2 linked regions of the Homo sapiens genome follow. The protein of the gene in region 1 purifies or fractionates together with the protein of each later gene. This does not show direct contact. Each region holds a gene or a part of one and is shown on either strand. Other genes may lie near its edges.

What was found.
Region 2: the proteins of MRRF (region 1) and NFS1 purify together in Homo sapiens (affinity purification with mass spectrometry; 2 studies listed by BioGRID and IntAct, with this or other methods). This does not show direct contact.

The regions. Positions count from the first base shown.
Region 1 is NC_000009.12:122,274,862-122,281,890, reverse strand, and holds part of MRRF (ribosome-recycling factor, mitochondrial isoform 1 precursor), read right to left. Parts: intron 1,449-7,029; coding exon 1,293-1,448; intron 1-1,292. UniProt on the Homo sapiens protein: Responsible for the disassembly of ribosomes from messenger RNA at the termination of mitochondrial protein biosynthesis. Acts in collaboration with GFM2. Promotes mitochondrial ribosome recycling by dissolution of intersubunit contacts.
Region 2 is NC_000020.11:35,675,347-35,682,375, reverse strand, and holds part of NFS1 (cysteine desulfurase isoform a precursor), read left to right. Parts: intron 1-394; coding exon 395-488; intron 489-1,504; coding exon 1,505-1,639; intron 1,640-7,029.

The DNA of each region.
Region 1 (7,029 bases):
CTCAATCTGTCCCCAGCGAGAATCTCCCTCAGCCTCATTCCTGCCCCTCATTTTCTCAGAGGTTAACATTTAACAAATTACACTCCCAACCTCTTTCCAGGCCCATCATCTTTTTAAGTTCAACAAGAGTGGAGCTTGCTGGCTAATTTTAAGTATCACATTTCTCCCTGAGCTCCTCTCAAACTGCTCTCTGGTTTCGGCTGCAGAATGTTAACAGGCCAGAAAACACAGGGGAGACAGAGCACTTTATCAGTTTCATACCTAAAATAATAAGCAAGTTTAAAATAAACAGTTGAGAGAGATTGAATGGCACGCTCTACTGTCAGCAAAGGCAGAAATGCCCCAGCCCAAAGGTTGACAAGTGACGGGAACAGTCTTCTAGTTTCACACTGGATCTCATCTCTGAACTCGGTAATGTTTCTGATAGTGTTTATAAGTGGAGCTGTATTTTTCACTTGGTTTTCTTAAGAGCGAAATATTTCTAGTTTTCTTATGAACTATCCTAATCAAGATGTGAGTAGAAGCAGCCCAAGCTCCCACAGGTACCTTAAGAGAGGGGTCCCAGGTTTGACTTTAGGATGATGACAATTTGCAAAAGCCTAATTTAACAGCAACTGGATTTTTCCTGCCTGCTTGCACCATCAGCTGACAACTCACTTCTCCATCACATCTGCAAACAGTTGGCCTAGACAGTTCTGACATTTCCCACTTAGAAAAGCCACTTTCAGGAAGTTATTAACCCAAACGGAATCTTCCTGGTCAAGCTCAGGGGTATAGAAATGCCTCACGTGGGCAGGTCTGTATTCATTTGGTTCCCAGTAAGGGATAAGAACTGCCAAACAGGACAAATTGGAAAAATCGGACCAAAGATGTCAGTTACTATGAGACTAAATACCTAGATGTGTTTATAGTACATTCATAATAAAAATCTCATTTTTCTGAGAGTCTAATTCCATGATAGCAAAGACAATACCTATTTTTGTTTACTACTATGCACTAGCACAATGCCTAGTTCCAAAGTAGACAAAAATTTGCAGCATGGATAAATAAATGTAGTGTTAACTATGCGCCAGGCACTATGCTAGAACCATAATACGTTACCTCATTTATTTTAACTACCACCCCAAAGCTGTAAGTTAAGAATCAAACAAGAAAACCGAGGACCAGAAAAGCAAAGTAACTGCCCATGGCCACCAGTTAGTAAATGGCAAAGCTGGGACTAAAACTCAACTCTGCCAAACCCATGCTCTTTCCATTACATCCCTCCCCAGAACATTGGTTCAGTCACTAACCTGGTGAGGTCCTTATATTGAGAGTCTTATTGAAATTATCCTTGAGAGCTTCTATCACAGACTTCATTTCTTCATTCACCTCTTCCAAGTTGATTATATCCTCAACCAAGGCAGCATTAATATTCACTCTGGTTTGGGACTGTCCTTTCCCTTTGGCTAAAAAGTGAACATTCAGTGAATAAAACAACAGCAGCATAAACAGAGCCAATAAGCAATTGGTGAAGAAGTACCTACTATGTACAGGGAAAAATGTCAAGTGTTAGAAAATTATAAAACATTATCGCTCCACTAAAAAAGAGCCTATATTAACTGAGTGTCAACTGTGCTAAACACCTTCTCAGATACTAGTGAGGGGGCACACTTTATAATCAGACACCCCAGGTTAGAAGTCTGGCTATAATGCATACTAGCTTTATGACCTTAGGCAAGTTATCTTTCTGAGTATCAAGTTCCCTACCTGTAAAAGAATAGTAACATCTATATTGCAAGGTTGCTACAAGGATACAAATTAAGTCATTCAAACACCTAAAAGAACACTATACACATGGCAGGGAATCCATAACTAAATTAATCCCTTACTTTTCAGAAAAGTAAACAGAAGATGAGAAAGGTAAAGCTATTTGCCTAATGTCACAGGTCAGGAAATGGAAAAGTCAAGATCTGGTTCCAGATCTGCCTAATTTTAAACCCATGAACTTTTCACTAGCCCATCTCCACAAAATCTAATTAGAGAGACAGGAAATACATTAATTCATTAAAAATGGACACTAAGACAAGGATATGCACACAATATCTGATGGCTGGTAGAGTACAGACAAAAGGAACAATAGTAGTTTACAGACATTAAACACTACCAATGGTAGAGACAATGGCTTATATTTTAGAAAATCAACAGCATTGGGAGCTGAATATAATTTCATTTTATGTCTAAATCATCGTAGTGATTTTTCATATACATTCTAGGTGTATACATAGATAATTTCTGTGAGTGATGCAAATATTCTTGCATTTCTTTTATAGGGAATGGGGAAGGAGAAAAACAATAAAATTTTAAACAATATTTACACTGTTTATTCATTAAACATTCAACAAATATTTATTGAGATTCATTAAATAAATTTTGTTGAACATCTACAGTGAACTCAATCCTGTACTATTTGGGTGGCATATTATAACTTGCAATGCAATTTCAAGTACATTCTCCTCCTTGCTATCCAAGATAGCTCTCTGAGGTAGGAAGAATAGTGATTAGTATTGTCCCCATGGTACAGATGAGAAATCTAAGGCACAAGCCATTTAAATGTTTCGTCCAAAGTAAACAACTGGTAAGCAACAGAGTGATTTTTAAAAACATTTATTTGCCCATGTTACCATTATGCTTTGAAACCAATGGCTTAGGTTTTTTTTCAGAACTGATAGAAGATGTGGGGCTGGGCGCAGTGGCTCATGCCTATAATCCCAGCACTTTGTGGGGCCGAGGCAGGCAGATCACGAGGTCAGGAGTTCAAGATCAGCCTGACCAAAATGGTGAAACTCCATCTCTACTAAAATTACAAAAATTAGCTGGGCGTGGTGGCGTGTGCCTGTAATCCCGGCTACTCGGGAGGCTGGGGCAGGAGAATCGCTTGAACCCGGGAGGTGGAGGTTGCAGTGAGCCGAGATCAGTGCCACTGCACTTCAGCCTGGGCGACAGATCAAAGAAAAAAAAAAAAGATGTGGATCTTCGGATTGAGAAACACAAGTTTCAAATAGGACAATAAAAGTAAATTCACACCTAGACATGTTGTGACTGCAGAAAACAAAGGACAAAGAGATCTTTATAAACGCCCAAGAGAAAAGACAAATTATCCATGAAGGATTAAAACTTAGAACACTTTCCAAGAGCAACAACAGAAGCCAGAAGCAACTGAAATAATATCTTCAACTTTGAACTTTTAAAACCAAATATGCACATTAATAATTTAAAGATATGCCTGTCAATATTGGAATGAATAGTAATATTTATGAATGAAATACTATGCAACCATGAGAAAGAATGAACACACACAAAAATTTAAATGAGTCTCACAAACATGATGTTGAACACAGAGGCCAGACACAAGAAAACAAAACTGTACAGTACAAAGGCCAGATATGAGAATATAAACTGAAAAGTAAAAAAAAAGAGAAAACGAATCCATGCTACTAGAAGTCAGAATAATAGTTATCTGCAAAGGGTCAAGGGTAGTACTTACTAGAAAGAAGCACAAAGGGGACTTTTGACATGCTAAGAATGTTCTGTTTTTTTTATCTGGGTGCTGTAAGTGATTTCAGCTTGTGAAATTTATGACAGCTGCACTTTCCTACAGGGTTTTTTTATTTCTATAAAAAGGTTAAAAAATTAGTTAAGGGTAACCATCAAAACAATAATAAATTAAAAGTATATCTTCCAAATCAGCAGAATTTAAAAAAGAGAGAGAGAGGGATAAAGAAATTTAATCTAATGGGAAAAGAAGAAGAAAAAAGGAAAAAAAGGAATATTTCAACACAGCTAAAAGAACTTTAAATGTTCCCAACACATAAAAATGATAAAAGCTTGAGATGCTGGATACCCCATATACCCTAACTTAAATCATTTATGCATGTAACAAAACATCACATATACCCCATAAGTATGTACAAATATGTATCAATAAAAAAAATTTTTAAATATGCATTTAAAAAAAAGAAAAAAGGAAAAAACATGATATAAAGAAAGTCCAAAATAAGGCCAGGCGTGGTGGCTCATGCCTGTAATCCTAGCACTTTGGCAAGCCAAGGCGGGCGGATCACCTGAGGCCAGGAGTTTGAGATCAGCCTAGCCAACAAGGCAAAACACCATCTCTACTAAAAATACAAAAAATTAGCTGGGCATGGTGGCGTATGCCTGTAGTCCCAGCTACTCGGGAGGCTGAGGCACAAGCATCACTTGAACCTGAGAGGCGGAGGTTGCGGTGAGCCGACACTGCACCACTGCATTCCAGCCTGGACGACAGAGTGAGACTCTGTCTCAAAAAAAAGAAAGAAAGTACAAAATAAAATAATAACACAAATATGCAGTGACTACAATAAATATAAATGGATCAAAATGACAAGTTAAAAGTGGGAGATTCTCAGTAAGATTTTTAAAAATCTAGCTGAATATAACATAACGGTTTTTAAAAATTATAAAAGATCACAGAAAGTTTGATGTATAGGGATGGAAAAATTATAAGCCTGGCAAACATCAGTCAAAAGAAGGCTGGTGTAGCTACATTATCATCAAACAAAAAAGATTTTAAGACAAAATTCACTATTGGAAATCATGAAGACAACTTCAAAATGATAATAGAAACAATTCACCAGAAAGATATATAACAATTCTAAGATTAAATATATCAATAAGATAGCCTCAAAATTAATACAATTAAAAGAAGAAACTGGCTGGGTGCAGTGACTTACACTTGTAATCCCAGCACTTTGTGGGGCTGAGGTGGGCAGATTGCTTGATCCCAGCAGTTCAAGACCAGTCTGGGAAACATTGCAAAACCCAGTCCCTACAAAAAATACAAAAATTACCAGGCATGGCCGTGCGTGCCTGTAGTCCCAGCTACTTGGGAGGCTGAGGTAGGAGAATCAGTTGAGCCCAGAAGATTAAGGTTGCAGTGGGCTGTGATTGCACTGCTGCACTACAGCCTGGGCAAGACCCCGTCTCAAAAAACAACAAAAAAGGAGAAACTGATCAATCTACAAGCATACTAGGAGAGTTCAATATACCTTCCTTGATAACCGATAAGTAAGCAAATAAAAAAACAGAAAAGTTGATCAATAAAATTAGTCAATTTGATCTAATACAATACACCCAAGAAAAAAAGAATACACATTATTCTCAAGCACACTTGGACCTTCTATGAAACAACCATGTTTTACACACAAATCAAATCTCAACAAAAATAAAAGAATCTATATCATATAGAACATGCCTTCTGAACAGAGTAGAATTAAGCTAACCCCAAAACAACCATTTGTTTGAAAAACTTTAAACACTTCTTAATAAACACTCATGGGCTATAAAGAAATGCATAATGGAAATGTTTAAATATTGAGAAATGACCATAATAAAAATATTCAATGTCAAAAACTCAAGTCAGACACGATGGCTCAACACCTGTGATCCCAGCGCTCTGGAAGGCCAAGGCGAGAGGATCACTTGAGCCCAGGAGTTCAAGGTTACAGTGAGGTATGATTGTGCCACTGCACTCCAGCCTAGGCAACAAAGCAAGACCTTATCTCTAAAATAAATAAACAACCTTATAGGAAGCATTTAAAGTTGTATTTAGACAGAAACTTCTAACCTTAATACTTTAAAAACAAAACAAAACAAAACAGGCTGGGCGTGGTGACTCATGCCTGTAATTCCAGCACTTTGGGAGCCCAAGGTGGGCGGATCACCCAAGGTCAAAAGTTCGAGACCAGCCTGGCCAACATGGCGAAATCCCATCTCTACTAAAAAAAAAAATACAAAAATTAGCTGGGCGTGGTGGCAAGTGCCTATAGTCCCAGCTACTTGGGAGGCTGAGGCAGGAGAATTGCTTGAACCCAGGAGGACAAGGCTGCAGTGAGCTGAGATCATGCCACTGCACTCCAGTCTGGGTGACAGAGGGAGACTCCATCTCAAAAAAACAATAAGAAATAAAAATAAAGAAGAAAGTATTATGCACAATGGTAAGATATGAAAACAACCAAAGTGTCTGTGGATAGAGAAATGATGTGGGTGCATGTATGGGTGTGTGTGTTTGTGTATAAAGTGGCATATTATTCAACCTTAAAAAACGAGACCTTGCCATTTGCCATGGATGAACCCGGAGGACATTACACTAAGCAAAATAAGCCACACACAGAAAAATACTGCATGATTATACTTGTATGCAGAATCTCAGGGTTGGGGTTTGCTTGTTTGTATTTTAGACAGGGCCTCACTCTGTCACCCAGACTGGAGTGCAGTGGTGCGATCTCAGCTCACTACAGGCCTCAACCTCCCTGGGCTCTGGTGATTCTCCCATCTCAGCATCCTGAATAGCTGGGACTACAGGCGCATGCCACCATGCCTGGCTAATTTTTGTATTTTTTTTGTAGAGAAGAGGTTTCACCACATTGCCCAGACTGATCTTGAACTCCTGGGCTCAAGTGATCCACCCGCCTCGGCCTCCCAAAGTGCTGGAATTATGAGCATGAGCCACCATGCCTAACCACATGCGGAATCTACAAAAAAGATGAATACACACAGAGAATAAAATAATACTTAGCAGGGGTCAGCGGGGTGGGGTGGTGGTGGTGGTGAGGAAATGGAGAGATATAAATCAAAGGATACAAAGTAGTAGATATGTAGGATGAACAAGTCTGGAGATCTAATGTACAATAGGAGGACTATAGTTAGTAATATTGTATTATACTCTGGATTTTTTGCTAAGACAGATTTTATGTGCTTTCGCAAAAAAAAAAAAAAGGAGGTAACTATGTAAGATAATGGATATGTTAATTTGCATGTATGTAACCATATCACTGCATGTATATCAAAGCATCATGTTTATAATAAAATTTTTCAAAGAAAAAAAGAAAACAGGAAAGACCAAAAATTAATGAACTAATTGTCCAACTCAGAGGATAGAAACAGAACAAGTACACAGGAGAAAGTAAATAATAAAGAACAGAAATCATAAAATTGCAAAAAAGAGAGATC
Region 2 (7,029 bases), on another chromosome or scaffold:
ATCTGGGTAGTTTCTAGGTTTTTGGTATTACGAATAAAGTTATTGTGAACATTTGTGTAAGATGTTTTGTGAATTTAATTTTCATTTCTCTGGGATAAATGCCCAAGTGTACAGTTACTGGGTTCTATGGTAATTTCATGTTTAGTTTGATGAGAAACAGAAACTGTCAAACTGTTTTCCAAAGTGGCTGTGATATTTACATTCCCACTAACAATGTATGAACCATTCAGAGTCTGTGCATCCTCACCAACATTTTGTGTTGTCACTGTTTTTAGTTAACTATTCAGATAGGTATGTAGTATAAGACTCCTTTTCATGACTAAGTTTGCCTATATTCTGATTTAGGAGGACTTTGTTTGTACTATCTAGTCACCTTACTCCTGCATATCCCTAGGAACTAGAGGCTGCTATCCAGCCAGATACTAGCCTGGTGTCAGTCATGACTGTGAACAATGAGATTGGAGTGAAGCAGCCTATTGCAGAAATAGGTGAGTATCATGGCTTATCCCTGATCCCTGCCCACCATGGGGCTCTGTATGAGGTAGTATACTGAGAGCTGTAATACTCTATGGAGTGTAGTTAGGAAATCAAGGGAAAGCCTAAGTACTTTGTTCAAGGACATTGGAAGTGTCATAGGCAGTATTTGAATCCAGGTCTATTACCATTTTTTTTTTCATTGAGACAGAGTATCACTCTGTCACCTAGGCTGGAGTGCAGTGGTGTGATCTCAGCTCCCTGCAACCTCCTCACTCTGGGTTCAAATGATCCTACCGCCTCAGCCTCTTGAGTAGCTGGGACTACAGGTGTGTACCACTATGCCTGGCTAATTTTTGTATTTTTAGTAGAGATGAGGTTTTGCCATGTTGGCCAGGCTGGTCTTGAACTCCTAACCTCAGGTGATCCGTCTGCCTTGGCCTCCCAAAGTGCTGGGATTACAGGCGTGAGCCACTGCTCCCGGCCAGGTCTAGCACCTTTTATGGTTTTTAATTTTATTGCAGTTGCTGCCAAAACCAACCACAAAACAAAAAAGCCTGCTACTCTTTTTCCTTTTAGAACATCTCTATTCTCCCCACATAGAGATCGCCCTGTAATTTCTTTAGGCACATTAGCACAAAGATCTGTTAATCTTGTTTTTTTTTTTTTATTTTGTTTTGTTTGTTTTTTAATCAAAAGGGATCTAGAAAGTAATCTGACATTTTGAAAGGCTGGTGTTAATGAGGTGGTGAGAATTGTATGCATAAGAATATCACGAGTGTTTCGATCTGGTGCTTTGCCCTTCATCTTTTTTATTCTAAAGAAGGGAAGCTACTGAGACACAGAGAGGGAGGAAGGGGGAAGGGGGAGGAGGGAAGGAAAAGAGGAAGGAGAAGGGGTAGAAGGAGGGAGGGGAGGAGTTTAATATTTACAGGTCATTTACTATTGGAGATAATTCACAGTGCACTGTGGGACTCTGACAGATGACTTTCCAACATTGTGCTGTGGGTCTTCCCCTCTGTTTCCTCAGGGCGGATTTGCAGTTCCAGAAAGGTATATTTCCATACTGATGCAGCCCAGGCTGTTGGAAAAATCCCACTTGATGTCAATGACATGAAAATTGATCTCATGAGCATTAGTGGTCACAAAATCTACGGTCCCAAAGGTACCAGCCCCTTCTAGAGTTCCTTCTCTCTGTACCTTCCAGCAAGACCTTTGATAGATGTTTGTCACAGTCATTTGGGACTACTGTTGCTCTCAGAGGAAGTTGTACATTCAGAGTCCCTTGTAGAATGCAAATGTCATTTAGCAATAGCCAGAAACACTTGCTTGTTTGTAGACCTTAGCAGTTACTATACATCAGGCCATTCTTTCTTGCTCTCTTTAACAAATCCTTAGCAAGCATGTAGATCTTAATTTGGTTGAGGAAAAATGGGTTTTGTCAAATCAAATTTATCTAGATAGGCCCAGCTATCTTGTTTTCCCCACTATGATGTGCAGAGCAACTATTTGAGTCCCTCATTCCCAGTGTCTTGCTATAGCTCAGGGGAAGATTGCATGGGATTTGACATCTCTTTGTGTTCTTTTTTTTTTTCTTGAGACGGAGTCTCGCTCAGTCGCCCAGGCTGGAGTGCAGTGGCGCCATCTCGGTTCACTGCAAGCTCCACCTCCCTGGTTCACGCCATTCTTCTGCCTCAGCCTGCCGAGTAGCTGGGACTACAGGCGCCTGCCACTACGCCCGGCTAATTTTTTTGTATTTTTAGTAGAGACGGGGTTTCACCATGTTAGCCAGGATGGTCTTGATCTCCTGACCTCGTGATCCGCCCGTCTCGGCCTCCCAAAGTGCTGGGATTATAGATGTGAGCCACCAAGCCCAGCTATCTTTGTGTTTATTCTTAGAAGACTTCATAGTCTGTTATCCTGTTAGTCTCTCAAGGATACATGTTTGTTCCCTATGGTCCTATTGGAATGTGTTCAAGCTTGAGTTATGCCTCTTTCCCTTAACCCTTGGGAATAGACTGTTGTCCTCTGTTTTGTGAAGGTAACCATAAAATATAAATATAAAATATAACTCCTCTTTCTCAAGTGAGGGCCTTTTTTGGGTTGATGTCTGTGCTGGTACCCTTTTTATGTCTGCAGGGTGTGTTATCTGGGTGTATACCTTGTGGAAGTAGGTGTAATAGCTTCTGGAATTATGGAAGATGGCGTCTTCTAAGGGTTCCCAGAGGTTGTAGAGTGTTTTTTGTGAGTTATTATTTCAAAAAGCCCAGTAAGCGTTCTGTCTTTTAATAAAATGTTGCTTTTATTGGCTTTTATTGTAGATAAGTCTTTTTGATAAAAACCAATGAACTCAGGCTGGATACCCCATTCTTCATCATGTGCCTATTTCACATTATATGCCTGTATTAAAACATCTCATGGGCTGGGCACGGTGGCTTACACCTGTAATCCCAGCACTTTGGGAAGCCAAGGCGGGCGGATCACGAGGTCAGGAGTTCAAGACCAGCCTGATCAACATGGTGAACCCCCGTCTCTACTAAAAATAAAAAAATTAGCCGGGTGTGGTGGCATGTGCCTTTAATCCCAGCTACTCAGGAGACTGAGGCAGGAGAATCGTTTGAACCCAGGAGCCAGAGGTTGCAGTGAGCCGAGATCACACCACTGCCTGGGCGACAGGCGAGACTCCCTCTCAAAAACAAAAAAAATCTCATGAACTCCATAATATATATACCTCCTGTGTACTCACAAAAATTTTAAAAACAAAAAACCAATGAACTCATTGATCAGAAGCTCTGATCAACACTTACATGTGTACAGGTGTCCCTCATTATCCAACCTCCTGCTTTCCAAGTCCAGAATCTAAATAGATTTAGATAATGTGGCATTCTTCACTGTTCAGACATGGTATTTGAGCACTTGCTGTTTGAATTTGGGAACTGTTTAGACTCAGATAGTATAAGATTCTTGAATTTTTTTAAATGGAGAAATGAAATAATTCTTAATAAATACAGTTTAATACATTATTTTATTCATTTGTTTTATAGGGACAAGGTCTCACTCTGTTGCTCAGGCTGGAGTGCAGTGGTGCTATCCTACCTTGCCACAGCTTCAATCTCCTGGGCTCAAGCAACCCTCCTACCCCAGCCTCACCAGTAACTAGCACTACAGGTGTGCACCAACACGCCTAATTTTTTTTTTTGAGACAAAGTCTTACTCTGACGCCCAGGCTGGAGTGCAGTGGTGTGATCTCGGCTCGCTGCAACCTCTGCCTCCCAGGTTGAAGGGATTCTCCTCTCTCATCCTCCTGAGTAGCTGGGATTATAGGCCCACTGTGCCCGGCCATGCCTGGCTAATTTTTTTTTTTTTTTTTTTTGAGACAAAGTCTCGCTCTTGTCCCCCAGGCTGGAGTGCAATGGTGAGATCTCGGCTCACTGCAACCTCCGCCTCCCGGGTTCAAGCGATTCTCCTGCCTCAGCCTCCCAAGTAGCTGGGATTACAGGTGCCTGCCACCACGCCTGGCTAATTTTTGTATTTTATTTTATTTTTTGAGACGGAGTCTCGCTCTGTCACCCAGCCTGGAGTACAGTGGCGTGATCTTGGCTCACTGCAAGCTCCGCCTCCAGGGTTCACGACATTCTCCTGCCTCAGCGTCCCAAGCAGCTGGGACTACAGGCGCTTGCCACCACGCCCGGCTAATTTTTTTTTTTTTGTATTTTTGTAGAGACGGGGTTTCACTGTGTTAGCCAGGATGGTTTTGATCTCCTGACCTCATGATCTGCCCGCCTCGGCCTCCCAAGGTGCTGGGAATACAGGTGTGAGCCACCACACCCGGCCTAATTTTTGTATTTTTAGTAGAGACAGGGTTTCACTATGTTGGCCAGGCTGGTCTCGAACTCCTGACCTCAGGTGATCCACCCACCCTTGGCCTCCCAAAGTGCCGGAATTACAGGCGTAATCCCGTGCCCGGCCCAATGCCTGGCTAATTTTTAAAACAGTTTTTGTAGAGATAGAGGTTTCACTATGTTACTCAGGCTTGAATTCCTGACCTCAAGCAACCCTCCCGCCTCAGTCTCCCAAAGTGCTGGGATTACAGGCATGACCCACTGCACCCAGCTTATTATTTAAAATCTGGTGTCCTTCATAATCGATTTGGAAACCACTGCCTTAATTTTTATAGTACCTCCATTCTCAGCATAAACAGTTTTTCTGTGTGGGAGAACTGTCAAGTGCCAATTCTATTCAGAAGCCCTGATTACTTGGTGAATAACTTTGCATGCTCATGCTCATATTTTGGCACAAAATTTCTGTAATTCGGCTTGTTTAGTCACAGGTTATACGCATTTTTAAGTTTTTTGTTTTTTTGAGTCAAGGTCTCAGTCTGTTGCCCAGCCTGGAGTGGAGTGAGTGGCACGATCATAGCTCACTGCAGCCTCGACCTCCTAGGCTCAAGTGATCCTCCTGCCTTAGCCTCCAGAGTAGCTGGGACTATAAGTGCATGCCACCATGCCCAGCTAAGTTTTAATTTTTTTTTTTGTAGACACGGGGTCTCACTGTGTTTCTCAGGCTGGTCCCAAACTTCTGGTCTCAAGTGATTCTCCTTCCTTGGCCTCCCAGAATGCTGGGATTGTAGTCATGAGCCACCGTGCTCCACCAAATTGTTTTTAAATTTAAATTTTATTTTGAAAAAGTAATATTCATGTGATTCAAAATTCAAAAGCTACAAAAAAGTGCACAGACAGCCAGGTGCAGTGGCACACGCCTGTAATTGCAGCACTTTGGGAGGCCGAGGCGGGCAGATCATGAGGCCAGGAATTTGAGACCAGCCTGTCCAACATGGTGAAACCCCGTCTGTACTAAAAATACAAAAATTAGCCATGCGTGGTGGCGGGTGCCTGTAATCCCAGCTAATCAGGAGGCTGAGGCAGGTGAATCACTTTAACCGGGAAGGTGGAGGTTGCGGTGAGCTGAGACCGTGCCATTGCACTCCAGTCTGGGCAACAGAGCAAGACTCTTGTCTCAAAAAAAAAGGGAAAAAAAAGGCACAGACAAAAGTCTGCCTCTCACCTCTGACCTCCAGCTATGCAGTTCCCTTCTGGGGAGGTAATTTCTTTCTTGGTTTTTTTTTTTTTTTTTTTTTTTTTTTCTGATTTTCTCTGGTTATTGGGAGGCAATTTCTTGGGTTTTTCTACAATTATCCTATGTGTTTACAAACAAATATATACTTCTCCTCCAGCTTTCTTTTTTATCCAGATGATAGCATACTGTACTCACTGTTTCAATCTTTCATTTTTCACCTAATGGTACATCTTTTTTTTTTTAGACAGAGTCTTGCTCTGTCACTAGGCTGGAGTGCAGTGGCACAATCTTGGCTCACTGCAACCTGTGGCTCCCAAGTTCAGGCGATTCTCCTGCCTCAGCCTCCTGAGTAGCTGGGATTACAGGTGCGTGCCACCACGCCCAGCTAATTTTTGTATTTTTAATAATTACGGGGTTTCACCATGTTGGTCAGGCTGGTCTCGAACTCCTGATTTCATGATCTGTCCGCCTCGGCTGCCCAAAGCACTGGGATTACAGGTGTGAGCCACCGTGTCCAGCCCATAATACATTTTTTTTTTTTAGACGGAGTTTTGCTCTTGTTGCCCAGGCTGGAGTGCAATGGTGCCATCTCAGCTCACTGCAACCTCTGCTTCCCGAGTTCAAGCAATTCTTCTGCCTCAGCCTCCCTAGTAGCTGGGATTACAGGCATGTGCCACCATGCCTGGCTAATTTTGTATTTTTAGTGGAGAAGGGGTTTCTCCATGTTGGTCAGGCTGGTCTCAAACTCCCGAACTCAGGTGATCCACCCACCTCAGCCTCCCAAAGTGCTGGTATTACAGGCGTGAGCCACTGCGCCCGGCCAATACATCTTTGTTTTTTCAAGCTAAAGTACAGACTTTTTTTTGGATTTCACCAGTTTTGTAACAATGTATCTTGGAGATTTTATGGTGTCAGTTCAGAACAAGCTTCTTCTTTTTTTTTTTTTTTTTTTTGGGAGACAGAGTCTTGCTCCATCACTCAGGCTGGAGTGCAGTGGCTTGATCTCAGCTCACTGCAACCTCTACCACCTGGGTTCATCTCATGTCTCAGCCTCCTGAGTAGCTGGGATTACATGTGCCTGCTACCACGCTTGGCTAATCTTTGTATTTTTAGTAGAGAGAGGGTTTCACCATGTTGACCAGGCTGGTTTCTAACTTCTGATCTCAGGTGATCCGCCCGCCTTGACCTCCCACAGTTGGGATTATAGGCGTGAACCACCACACCCGGCCCCCTCATTCTTTTATACACCTGCTTGGTATTTCATTGTATGGACATGCCATAATCTATTTGACCATTACCCTGATGATGGACATCTAAGTTGTTCCCAGTATTTTTGCTATTATGAATAATACTGTAATGTATGATGGCATTTCATATAGCATAGGGAGCTACTTTAAACCATTTTGATCATTACTCCTTCTGGCATTTATCTTCCAGATGTTAAATATTTTACTAAATACTATGCTTTTACTGCTGTTT